Regions from separate parts of the Homo sapiens genome. Here region 2 is linked to region 1. A link means that fine-mapping ties the variant in region 1 to the expression of a gene that starts in the linked region. Tissue or cell type: whole blood. Region 1 holds a variant in brackets; the other region holds the start of a gene. All regions are shown on one strand. Distances are between the middles of the regions. Region 1 has its middle 37 kb from the start of NDUFA12. Region 2 holds the start of NDUFA12 (NADH:ubiquinone oxidoreductase subunit A12).

Region 1 (5,381 bases):
GCAAGGTCATACCCCCTTCTGGAAGATTACTATTCTCCTTTTGAGAAACGGTTCTAATTTGCTTCTGGGGATGTTGGAGGCTATGGGACACCAGGTGCTATTTAATCCATCTACTCATAAAGTTGACCATTTCCAGCAGCACTCCATCACCTAGCAGGTGGGACCAGACAGGCCATGAAGACACATTTCCTTTGAACAGATTTCTCCCGACCCTGTGCCTTTAACTACTCTATTCCCACACCTCGCCCCTACCAATCTGTCCCTTTACCCTTGTGGAGCATTATTATCCAGTTAACTGAAAATGAAAAAAACCAAACCTGGCTTACAGATACCATGAACAATAGGCACTATCAGCTAGAAATGTACTGTGTATATTTGGGGTGGTCTTGAAGGACAGTAGAGGGCAAATCTCAATTTGTAGGCAGAATTCCAAGCACTGTCTTTTATCATGTACTTTGACTTGAGAGAAACATGATCTGAGGTGAGGATCTGTAACCGTAACCAGTCACTGGCTAGATAGTCAGAGATGGAGAAAAGCAACATGGAAGATTAGTGTAAAAGTTTTGGGAGGAGCTTGGCAAATGAACCTTGAGGCTTGGAGCTGTAATCCAAAAAGATTTAGAACAAAGTAGCCAGATGATTACTGAGATCACCTTCTGGGAACAAATCTTTGTCTCAGTGCCTACTTCTTGAAGATCCCAACAGAAAACACATATCTAAGCCCAGTATCGTCAATGCGGCAAGTTCATTTCACGGGACTTCTTCCATATTGGAGGGAGAGATGATTTGTTTTTGTGGGAATAGGCACTTATTCTGAATTTGGGTCTGTTTTCCTTGCCTATCATGCCTTGGTCAACATCAGCATTCATGGGATTAGAATGCTTTCTACCTTGTCATATGTAGGACAGTGTCCGTGGTGGAGAAACTCACTTCACAGAAAAGAAAAGAGGCCTAGTGCAGTGGCTCACACCTGTAATCCCAGCAGTTTGGGGGGCCAAGGCAGGCGGATCACCTGAGGTCAGGAATTCGAGACCAGCCTGACCAATATGATGAAACCCCGCCTCTACTAAAAATAGAAAAATTAGTCAGGTGTGGTGGCATGCGCCTGTAATCCCAGCTACTTGGGAGGCTGAGACAGGAGAATCACTTGAATCCGGGAGGCGGAGGTTGCAGTGAGCCATTGTACTCCAGCCTGGGCAACAAGAGTGAAACTCCCGTCTCAAAAAAAAAAAGACAGTGGAACTGCCTGTGGGAGTCCCTGCTTGTGTTTATGATGTGCCTTACTGACCTACCTCTCAGATATCATCTCTCATTTCTCCCTGCATCACCCACTACAGGTCAGCCACACAAGCCTCTGTCTAATCTTCAAAGACTGGATTCATTCTCGTCTTAGGTCTTTGCACTTGCTCTTCCTTCTGCCTAGAATATTAACATCTTTGTGTTGCTCCTTTTTTTGGTATCATTCATATCTTACTTTACAAGTATCACCTCCTCAACAGAATGTTCTGTGTCCATCTAATCTAAAGTAGCTTCCTCAGGAACTTCCTATTATTGTTTATTTGTATGAATTTCCTTGTTTTATTTTATTCATAGTACTTATTGTTACTTTTTGGGAAAAGGCCTGAACAAAATTATTCCAGTAAAGAATCTGTGTATTGAGCATTTACTAAACAGCCACTGTCCACCTACAAAAGCACTCTACATGTAGACATAATGAAGCAAAACTGTATTGATTAGATTTAGGGCAGGGTGCAGTGGCTCACGCCTGTAATCCCAGCACTTTGGAAGGCTGAGGCAGGCAGATCATCTGAGGTCAGGCGTTTGAGACTAGCCTGGCCAACATGGCAAAAACCCGTCTCTACTAAAAATACAAAAATTAGCCATGCATGGCGGCACATGCCTGTAGTGCCAGCTACTCAGGAGGCTAAGGTAGGAGAATCGCCTGAATCTGGGAGGCAGAGGCTGCAGTGAGCTGAGATCA[C/T]GCTGCCGCACTCTGGCCTGGGCCACAGAGAGACACTCTGTCTCAAAAAAAATAATAATAATTTTTGTTGGAGGTGAGATAGTGACTGAAATTAAACAGCGGCAGCCCAGAACAGTAAATTCTGAAGTTTCAGAAAGTAAGAATTCTTGTGGGAAATAACATCTAAACATGCAAATAGTTATACATAGGAAATTTCTAAAGTTTCATTAAGCAATTTTTACAGGAAAAAAAGAACACTAATTACCATGATGTCATGCTGTGTTTCCAAAAAATTGGTGATCATTTCAAGGGTTTGCAATCACTTGTGTGATCAGCTTGCAAAGACCTGTCGGTCTATATCCCCGCTTTCAAGTCATCCTTCTATGAATGGAGATGTCCTGTTCCTAACATTCTTCTCAAATACAAGTTAATTCATACACTGGTGCCAAGTGCCCATAGTATGAAATGCACACATCATAAGAGCATAGTAATGGAGCCATATTTATCAGCTCTGGCTCCAGGAAGTTAATGTCTGTGTATATTTTTTGTTTTTTAGGCCGAGTCTCACTCTGTTGCCCAGGCCGGAGTGCAGTGGCGCAATCTCGGCTCACTGCAACCTCCATCTCCTGGGTTCAAGCGATTATCCTGCCTCAGCCTCCTGAGTTGCTGGGATTACAGATGCATGCCACCATGGCTGGCTAATTTTTGTATTTTTAGTAAAGACGGGGTTTCGCCATGTTGGCCGGGCTGGTCTCCAACTCCTGACCTCAAGAGATCACCCGCCTCAGCCTCTCAAAGTGCTGGGATTACAGGCGTAAGCCACCGTGCCTGGCCAGAAACGCTGTTTTCCAGGCTGATGTCTGCTGTCTGAGAACCTGGTTCTACATGTGCCTGAAGTACATTCACTTACACTCTTCAATGACATGAACCAGTAAATGAACCAGTAAATTTCCCCAACTATTTTCTTATAGCTTGACTTCAAATCTGTATTGACTTATGCTTCTTTCACTTGCAGCTGAATGTCCTCACTGATACAGCATCCTTATGGCTTTATTACTTCTCCTCTAGTAATAGAATTTGTTACTGCTGTGTACTATCTTCCTTTCTTTCTTCATTTTCCTTTCCTTTCCCTTTTCCCCTTTCCTTTCCTTTCTTTCTTTTTTTTCCCCCCTCCCCTTCCCTTCCCTCCCCTCCCCTCTCCTTTCCTTTCCTTTTTTTTTTTTTCTTTTTTTTCCCAGACACAGGTTCTTACTCTGTTGCCCGGGCTGGAGTGCAGTGGTGCAATCATGACTCTCTGCAGCCTCGACCTCCTGGGCTCAAGTAGTCCTCCCACCTCAGCCTCCCAGGTAGCTTGAACTATAGGCATACACCACCATGCCCAGCTAGTTTTTTAATTTTTTATAGAGACAAGGTCTTCCTATGTTGCCCAAGTTTGCTTGCTCCTCTCCTCTCCCCTCTCCTCCCCTCCCCTTCCCTTCCCTCTCTTTCTTTTTTTTTTGACAGAGTCTCACTCTGTTATCCAGGCTGGAGTGCAATGGCGTTATCCTGGCTCATTGCAACCTCTGCCTCCCGGGTTCAAGTGATTCTCCTGCCTCAGCCTCCTGAGTAGCTGGGATTACCAGTACCCGCCACCATGCCCTGCTAATTTTGTATTTTCAGTAGAAATGGGGTTTTTCCATGTTGGCCAGGTAGGTCTCGAACTCCTGACTTCAGGTGATCCACCTGCCTTGGCCTCCCAAAGTGCTAGGATTACAGGCGTGAGCCACCATGCCCAGCCAGCCACCTTTCTTACTAGATGTAGCCCTGATTATTAATCTTCTGATTCATAACTCTTGGCATATTATGAACCAGTAGTGTTTGCCAGGATTTATTACTATAAGCTAATAAATAGCTTTATTTAAAAACTTAAAGTTTGTGTTGAAATGGATACATGTATTCCATAAAACCTCTGCATGTACATTTGAGGATATATCCGGGCCTTTAAAATTTCTGTAAGTGATGGCTCTACCTGATTCCAGTTGCAGAGAAGTCAGATTTACAGATTTGCCTGCATGTAGCCTGGACTTGGAAGTTTGAGCCACAATAAAATTGCTAAAAAAAAAAAAATTGGCAGTCATTTTTATGTCACTAAATAAGGGTAAGCATCAGCCTCACAATTTTAGGTGATGTATGATACTCTTTTCAAAGTAATACAAAGGGGATGGAAAAATTACATGCAAGAAAACCTGGATCCTAATTTGAAATTTATTTGTTTATTTATGTATTTTTTTGAGACGGAGTCTTGCTCTGTCACCCAGGCTGGAGTGCAGTGGCGCGATCTCGGCTCACTGCAAGCTCCGCCTCCCAGGTTCAAGCCATTCTCCTGCCTCAGCCTCCCGAGTAGCTGGGACTACAGGCGCCCACCACCATGCCCGGCTAATTTTTTGTATTTTTAGTAGAGATGGGGTTTCACCGTGTTAGCCAGGATGGTCTCAATCTCCTGACCTCGTGATCCACCCGCCTCGGCCTCCCAAAGTGCTGGGATTACAGGCGTGAGCCACTGTGCCCAGCCCCTAATTTGAAAATTTAAATATTAACTTACATGAAAAACTATTTTCTCAGTTTTGAGAAATGAGAAATCACCCTCCCAAAGTGCAGGGATTACAGGCGCGAGTGCTCTCTCTTTGCAGGTAGGATTAATAAAATTGCAATGTTAAGAATTTCATCTAAGGCAACACAAATCACTAGAACCATTAATTCCAACTTGAGCTAAGTGAAAAAATAAAAAAATTACTCATGGAAGAAGTAGTCAGCCATATAAAAAGGTTGTTGCATTTAGAGGCAGCTTGCCCTACAGGCTGACCTGAATTTCTCAGTTTGAGAATTGCGATAGCCATTAATATTTGTCACACAGCTGTGCTTGTCCCAGCTCCCTTACGGTCTCCACACACCCAGCCCCCACAACCCTAAATTAAAACCCTTAACTAATTTTCCACTGGTGAAAAACTAAGATTTCACTCTCACATTTTCTCTTGTGGTCACTTAAAGCAAAGTTTCTCCCCTACGTTTGACGGAGGAATGGCTGCCTTGCCCTCATTTCTTGTTTGTCTGTATTTGCTCGTTGAGTTTGATGTTGAGATTTCTTTTAGGATCCTAGAATTGGCACTTATCTCATCGTACACACCGCAAGTGTGTCTACTCTATTTTTGGAGTACATTTAAAAATCTAATAAGTTAACTTGTTTGTCCAACTGTATGGCACATTTATATAATTTATGATTCAATAATTATTTTCAATGAGATTGGGCATGTTTAGGGTGGTGTGGTTGTGGACTGAATAATTATTTTGGAACACTCAGTTGTTAGAGTTCTATCTGATTAACAAACATCCTGAACAGATGCGTTCTTCTCTCCAGCACCGTTGAGTCAGGGAAGCAGTATGA
Region 2 (5,381 bases), 37 kb before region 1:
GTGTTGGGAAAACCGGATATCCGCAAGCAAAAGAATGACGTTCAACCTTTACCCTACACCATATACCAAAATTAACTCAAAATGGACTAAAGACCTAAATGTAAGACCTGAAACTATAAAACTCCTAGAAGACAACGGGGGAAGCTTCATGACATTGGATTTAGCAGTGATTTCTCAGATATGATACCAAAAGCACAGACAAAGTAAAAATAGACAATTGGGGCTACATCAAACATAAACTTCTGCATAGCAAAGGACACAATCAACGGAATGAAAAGATGACCTAGGGAACGGGAGAAAATATCCACGATACATAAAGAATGCCTACAACTCAACAACAACAACAAAAAACCCGATTCAAAAATGGGCAAAGGACTTGAATAAACATTTCTCCAAAGAAGATATACAAATGGCCAACAAGCATATGAAAACATGGTTAACATCAGTAATCAGGTAAATGCAAATCAAAACCACAATGAGGTATCACCTCATCATCCATTAGGATGCCCACTGTAAAAAACAAATGAACACAGGTTGGGCGTGGTGGTTCACGCCTGTAATCCCAGCACTTTGGGAGGCCAAGGCGGGTGGATCACCTGAGGTCAGGAGTTCAAGACCAGCTTGGCCAACATGGTGAAACCTCGTCTCTACTAAAAATACAAAAATTAGCCGGGGGTGGTGGTGGGCGCCTGTAATCCCAGCTACTCGGGAAGCTGAGGCAGGAGAATCGCTTGAACTTGGGAAGGGGAGGTTGCAGTGAGCCGAGATCGCACCGCTGCACGCCAGCCTGGGCAACAGAGTTAGACTCCGTCTCAGAACAAACAAACAAACATACAAACAAACACAGAAAATATGTAGTGTTGGTGAGGAGGTGGAGAAATTGGAACCTTTGTGCATTGTTGTTAGTAATGTAAAATGGTGATGCTGCCATGGAAAACAGTATGGGGATTCCTATAAAAATAAAAAATAAAATTTCCATATGATCTAGCAATCCACTTCTGGGTATATATCCAAAAGAACTGAAAACAGGATCTTAGAGATATCTGCACACCCGTGTTCACTGCAGCATTATTCACAATAGCCAAGAGGCGGAATCAGCAGAAATGTTTATGGACAGGTAACTGGGTGGCATATACATACAGTGGAATATTATTCAACATTTATAAAAAGAAGAAAATCCTGTCATATACTACACTATGGATGAGCCTTGTGGATATCATGCTAAGTGAAATAAGCCAGGTCCTAAAAGACAAACACCTCATGATTCTACTTATATGAAGTATCTAAAGTAGTTAAACTCTTAGAAACAGAAGTAGAATGGTGGTTGGCAGGGGATGGAGAAAGAGGAAAAAGTTGTTCCATGGATATAAAGTTTCTGTTTTGCAAGAAGAATAAGTTCTAGAGATCTGTTGCGCAACAATGTGCATGTGGTTAACACTACTGTACACTTAAAAATGGTTAAAATGGTAAATTTTATATTTTGTGTTTTTAACCACCACTACCAAAAAAAAAAAAAAAAAGCTAGGGAACTAAATTGTTATTTTGAAAACACACATAAGGGAAAGAATCGGCTGGGTGTGGTGGCTTACACCTGTAATCCCAGCATTTTGAGAGGCTGAGGCAGGAGGATCACTTGAGGCCAGAGTTCAAAACCAACCTGGGCAACATAACAAGATGCCCATCTCTAAAAAAAAAAAAATTAGCCAGGGGTGGTGGCACTTACTTAAATGGGAGGACTGCTTGAGCACAGGAGTTTGAGGCTGCAGTGAGCTATGATCACACCACTGTATTTCAGCCTGGGTGACAGAGAGCCTGTCTCTAAAATTAAAAAACAAAAAAAAAGTAAGAGAATCAAGCACCCATACTGCCTTTCCTACATTAATTGTATCTCAGGAGCCAAATAGTTGAAGGGAGGTTTCTCTTTGTAGAAGAATTGTGGTTAACAAATGAAGTAATATTGAAATTTTTTAGGCTCAAGCGATGCTCCCATCTAAGCCTCAGCCTACCGAGTAGCTGGGACTACGGGCACGCGCCACCACATCCAGCTAATTTTTAATTTTTTTTTTTTTTTTGTAGAGACAGAATTCTCGCTGTGTTGGCGAGGCTGGTCTCGAACTCCTGGGCTCAAACGATCCTCCCTACCCGGCCTCCCAAAGTGCTGGGATTACAACAGTGAGCCACCGCGCCCACCAGAGCCAATTATTTTTAGATGAGGAAACTGAAATTCCCAAAGGGGGAATCCCCGTGTGAGAAAGCCTCGTGTAGGTGAGCTTTCCAGCATATGCCCGCCTTCTAGATTTAACCTCTGAAAACTAAATTTTAAGGTACCTTTGCTTCCAGGGGAAACCAATTCTGCCTACTTGGGAAGCCAGAACATGACCGCGTAGGCAAGACCTAGCTCTGCGCACGCGCAGAGCCACCACGTCTGGCGTTCGCGTGAGAACCTTCTGGGCGTGGGCTTCCTGCGGCTGAGTGGCAGCTTCCATCCGGTGGGTTTTGCTCGGCGCACCCGGGAGGCGGGGCCAGCGAGGCAAGATGGAGTTAGTGCAGGTCCTGAAACGCGGGCTGCAGCAGATCACCGGCCACGGCGGTCTCCGAGGCTATCTACGGGTTTTTTTCAGGTAGGCGGCCAGAGCCATGCTCTTGGCCTCTGGGGCTGGACTTTCGCTGGCTGATTTCTTGGAAGGGGTCCCAGGCTCGGGTCACCTTGGAGAATCCACAGCTCTTGTCAAGGACAACCGCCCCAATCTCTGCCTTGCCACCCCCAGGCTGGTCTCTGTCCCATATATCCCCGATACAAGACCGAAGCTATCTGTAGAGTCAGAGCTGTGACTCGGAGGCAAGGGCATCTGGGCTCCCCTCTTTTCCCACGCCCTGGAGAGTAATGAGGATTACAAGACATTAACTCAGTGACCCTGGTAAAGTTTTTTTCCCTGCACTGCCGTACAGTTCCTTGTCTGTAAGGCGTTGAAGGTAATAATGATGGTCCCTTCTCTTCCTGACATTCACTGATCCCACGAGCAGCATAGTTTCGCAGAAACCTAAATGGAGACCCAGAGTGGAATGAAAGAGCCTGGAGACCTTCGTATCATTGTAAGAAGATGAAATACTTTGGCTTTTTGATTTCCTAAAGGTTTTGCTAATTCCAGTGCCTCCTGGCTGAGGGATAGTAGATACAAGTAGTCCTGTAATCTGAAGAGACTACATTTATATTTTTAGTGTAATTTGAGCACATCAGTTGTCAATTCATCTTTTCCCATCCCCAGCACTTCTTCATTTTGCTAGTTGATGCAGCAGCCCTTGTGTCTGAAAGTTGTTACTCTCACTTTATTTCCGTTTATGTTTTGAACTAAGAATCATTCTAAAATGTCTGTTTTCTTTTGGGTATTCACAGGACAAATGATGCGAAGGTTGGTACATTAGTGGGGGAAGACAAATATGGAAACAAATACTATGAAGACAACAAGCAATTTTTTGGTGAGTGCAGTATTTTTTAGTATGAATAATTGGATTGGGATTGGGATTTGATTTGAGTCTATTTTCCATATTATGCAATGAGCTTTTACAAAACACCTGGAAAAGGATGAAAAACTCAATAGAAAATGAAAAAAGATAATTTACAGAAAAAAGAAAAGTAAACAGCCAATGAAGGTATGGAAAAATGCTCATTCTCACTTGTAACAACAGAAATGCAACTTTAAAAACAGTGTTATATATTTTTCACCTATCAAATTTTGAAGTGTTTTTGTTCTTTTTTTTTTTTTTTTTTTTTTTTTTTGAGATGGAGTCTCTGTCGGCCAGGCTGGAGTGCAGTAGCGCGATCTCGGCTCACTGCAACCTCCACCTCCTGGGTTCCAGCGATTCTCCTGCCTCAGCCTGCCTGAGTAGTTGGGACCACAGGCGGGCGCCACCATGGCCGGCTAATTTTTGTATTTTTTAGTAGAGATGGGGTTTCACCATATTGGCCAGGCTGGTCTTGAACTCCTGACCTCGTGATCCACCCGCCTTGGCCCCCCAAAGTGCTGGGATTACAGGCGTGAGCCACTGCGTCCAGCCTTGAGTATTTTTCAAGCTGATAAATCCCAATGTGGGCAAAACCATATAAATATGTAGGTTAATGCAGTCTTTTTGGAGGGATAATTTGGTAACATTTGTAAAAATTTACATTGCACATATCCTTTGTCTCAGCACTTCCACTTTTAACAATTAATTCGGCTGGGCGCGGTGGCTCACGCCTGTAATCCCAGCACTTTGGGAGGCGGAGGCGGGCGGATCACGAGGTCAGGAGATCGAGAGCATCCTGCCCAACGTGGTGAAACCCAGTCGCTACTAAAAATACAAAAATTAGCTGGATGTGGTGGCGTGTGCCTGTAATCCCAGCTACCTGAGAGGCTGAAGCAGGAGAATCGCTTGAACCAGGGAGTCGGAAGTTGCAGTGAGCCCAGATCCCGCCACTCTACTCCAGTCTGGCAACAGAGCGAGACTCTTATCTCAAAAAAGAATTAATTCTACAAATATTCTTGCAAACCAACATACATCACAGCATTGTTTTATTATATTTTAAAAATTTATTTATTTATTTAATGTTGAGACAGGGTCTCGCTCTGTCACCCAGTCTAGAGTGCAGTGACTCGATCATGGCTCACTACAGCCTCAACTTTCTGGGCTCAAGCTGTCCTCCTACCTCAGCCACCCAAGTAGCTGGGATTACAGGCATGTGTCACCATGCCTGGCTAATTGTTTAAAAAAATTTTTTTTTGGAGAGACGAGGTCTTGCTATGTTTCTTAGGCTGGTCTTGAATTCCTGGGCTCAGGTGATCCTCCCACCTCAGCCTCCCAAAGTGCTGGAATTACAGATGTGAGTCACTGTGCCTGGCCACAGCATTTTTGTTTGTTTTTGTTGTTGTTATTTTGAGACAGGGTCTCACTGTCGCCTAGGCTGGAGGCAGTGGTGTGATCTTGACTCCCTGCAGCCGTGACCTCCTGGGTTCTAGCCTTCCTCCTGCCTCAGCCTCCTATGTAGCTGGGACCACAGTCATGCACCACCACACCTGGTTAATTTTTTAATTTTTTTAAAGAGATGGGGTCTCACTTTGTTCCCCAGGCTGGTCTTGAACTCCTGGGCTTAAGCCATCCTCTTGTCTCAGCCTCCCAAAGTGCTGGGATCACGGGCATGAGCCACCGTGCTAGTAAATTTTAAAAGCAACATTAGTGTGCGTAAGTTGGATACTGATGAATTAAACATTTTTTAGAATAGTTTGTTGTTGTTTTTTTATTTTAAGTTCTAGGGTACATGTGCACAACGTGCAGGTTTGTTACATATGTATACGTGTTTTGGAATACGTTGTTGTTAAGAATGATATAAACCTATAAATTTAATA

The links. PIP is the estimated chance that this variant, and not a neighbour inherited with it, causes the effect.
Region 2: NDUFA12 starts here. The variant in region 1 is fine-mapped to the expression of NDUFA12 in whole blood (INTERVAL, PIP above 0.99).

What each region holds. Positions count from the first base shown.
Region 1 is chr12:94,963,876-94,969,256 of GRCh38, reverse strand. No RefSeq gene overlaps it. Among named protein-coding and RNA genes, the nearest start is that of NDUFA12, 37 kb to the left of the region's middle. The variant C/T (reference allele first, on the strand shown) is at 1,982.
Region 2 is chr12:95,000,835-95,006,215 of GRCh38, reverse strand. It overlaps NDUFA12 (NADH:ubiquinone oxidoreductase subunit A12), which reads left to right and starts at 2,519. Exons shown (of 4, transcript NM_018838.5): 1 at 2,519-2,621; 2 at 3,395-3,477. The coding sequence starts at 2,536. RefSeq lists enhancers at 2,397-2,796, 2,261-2,888.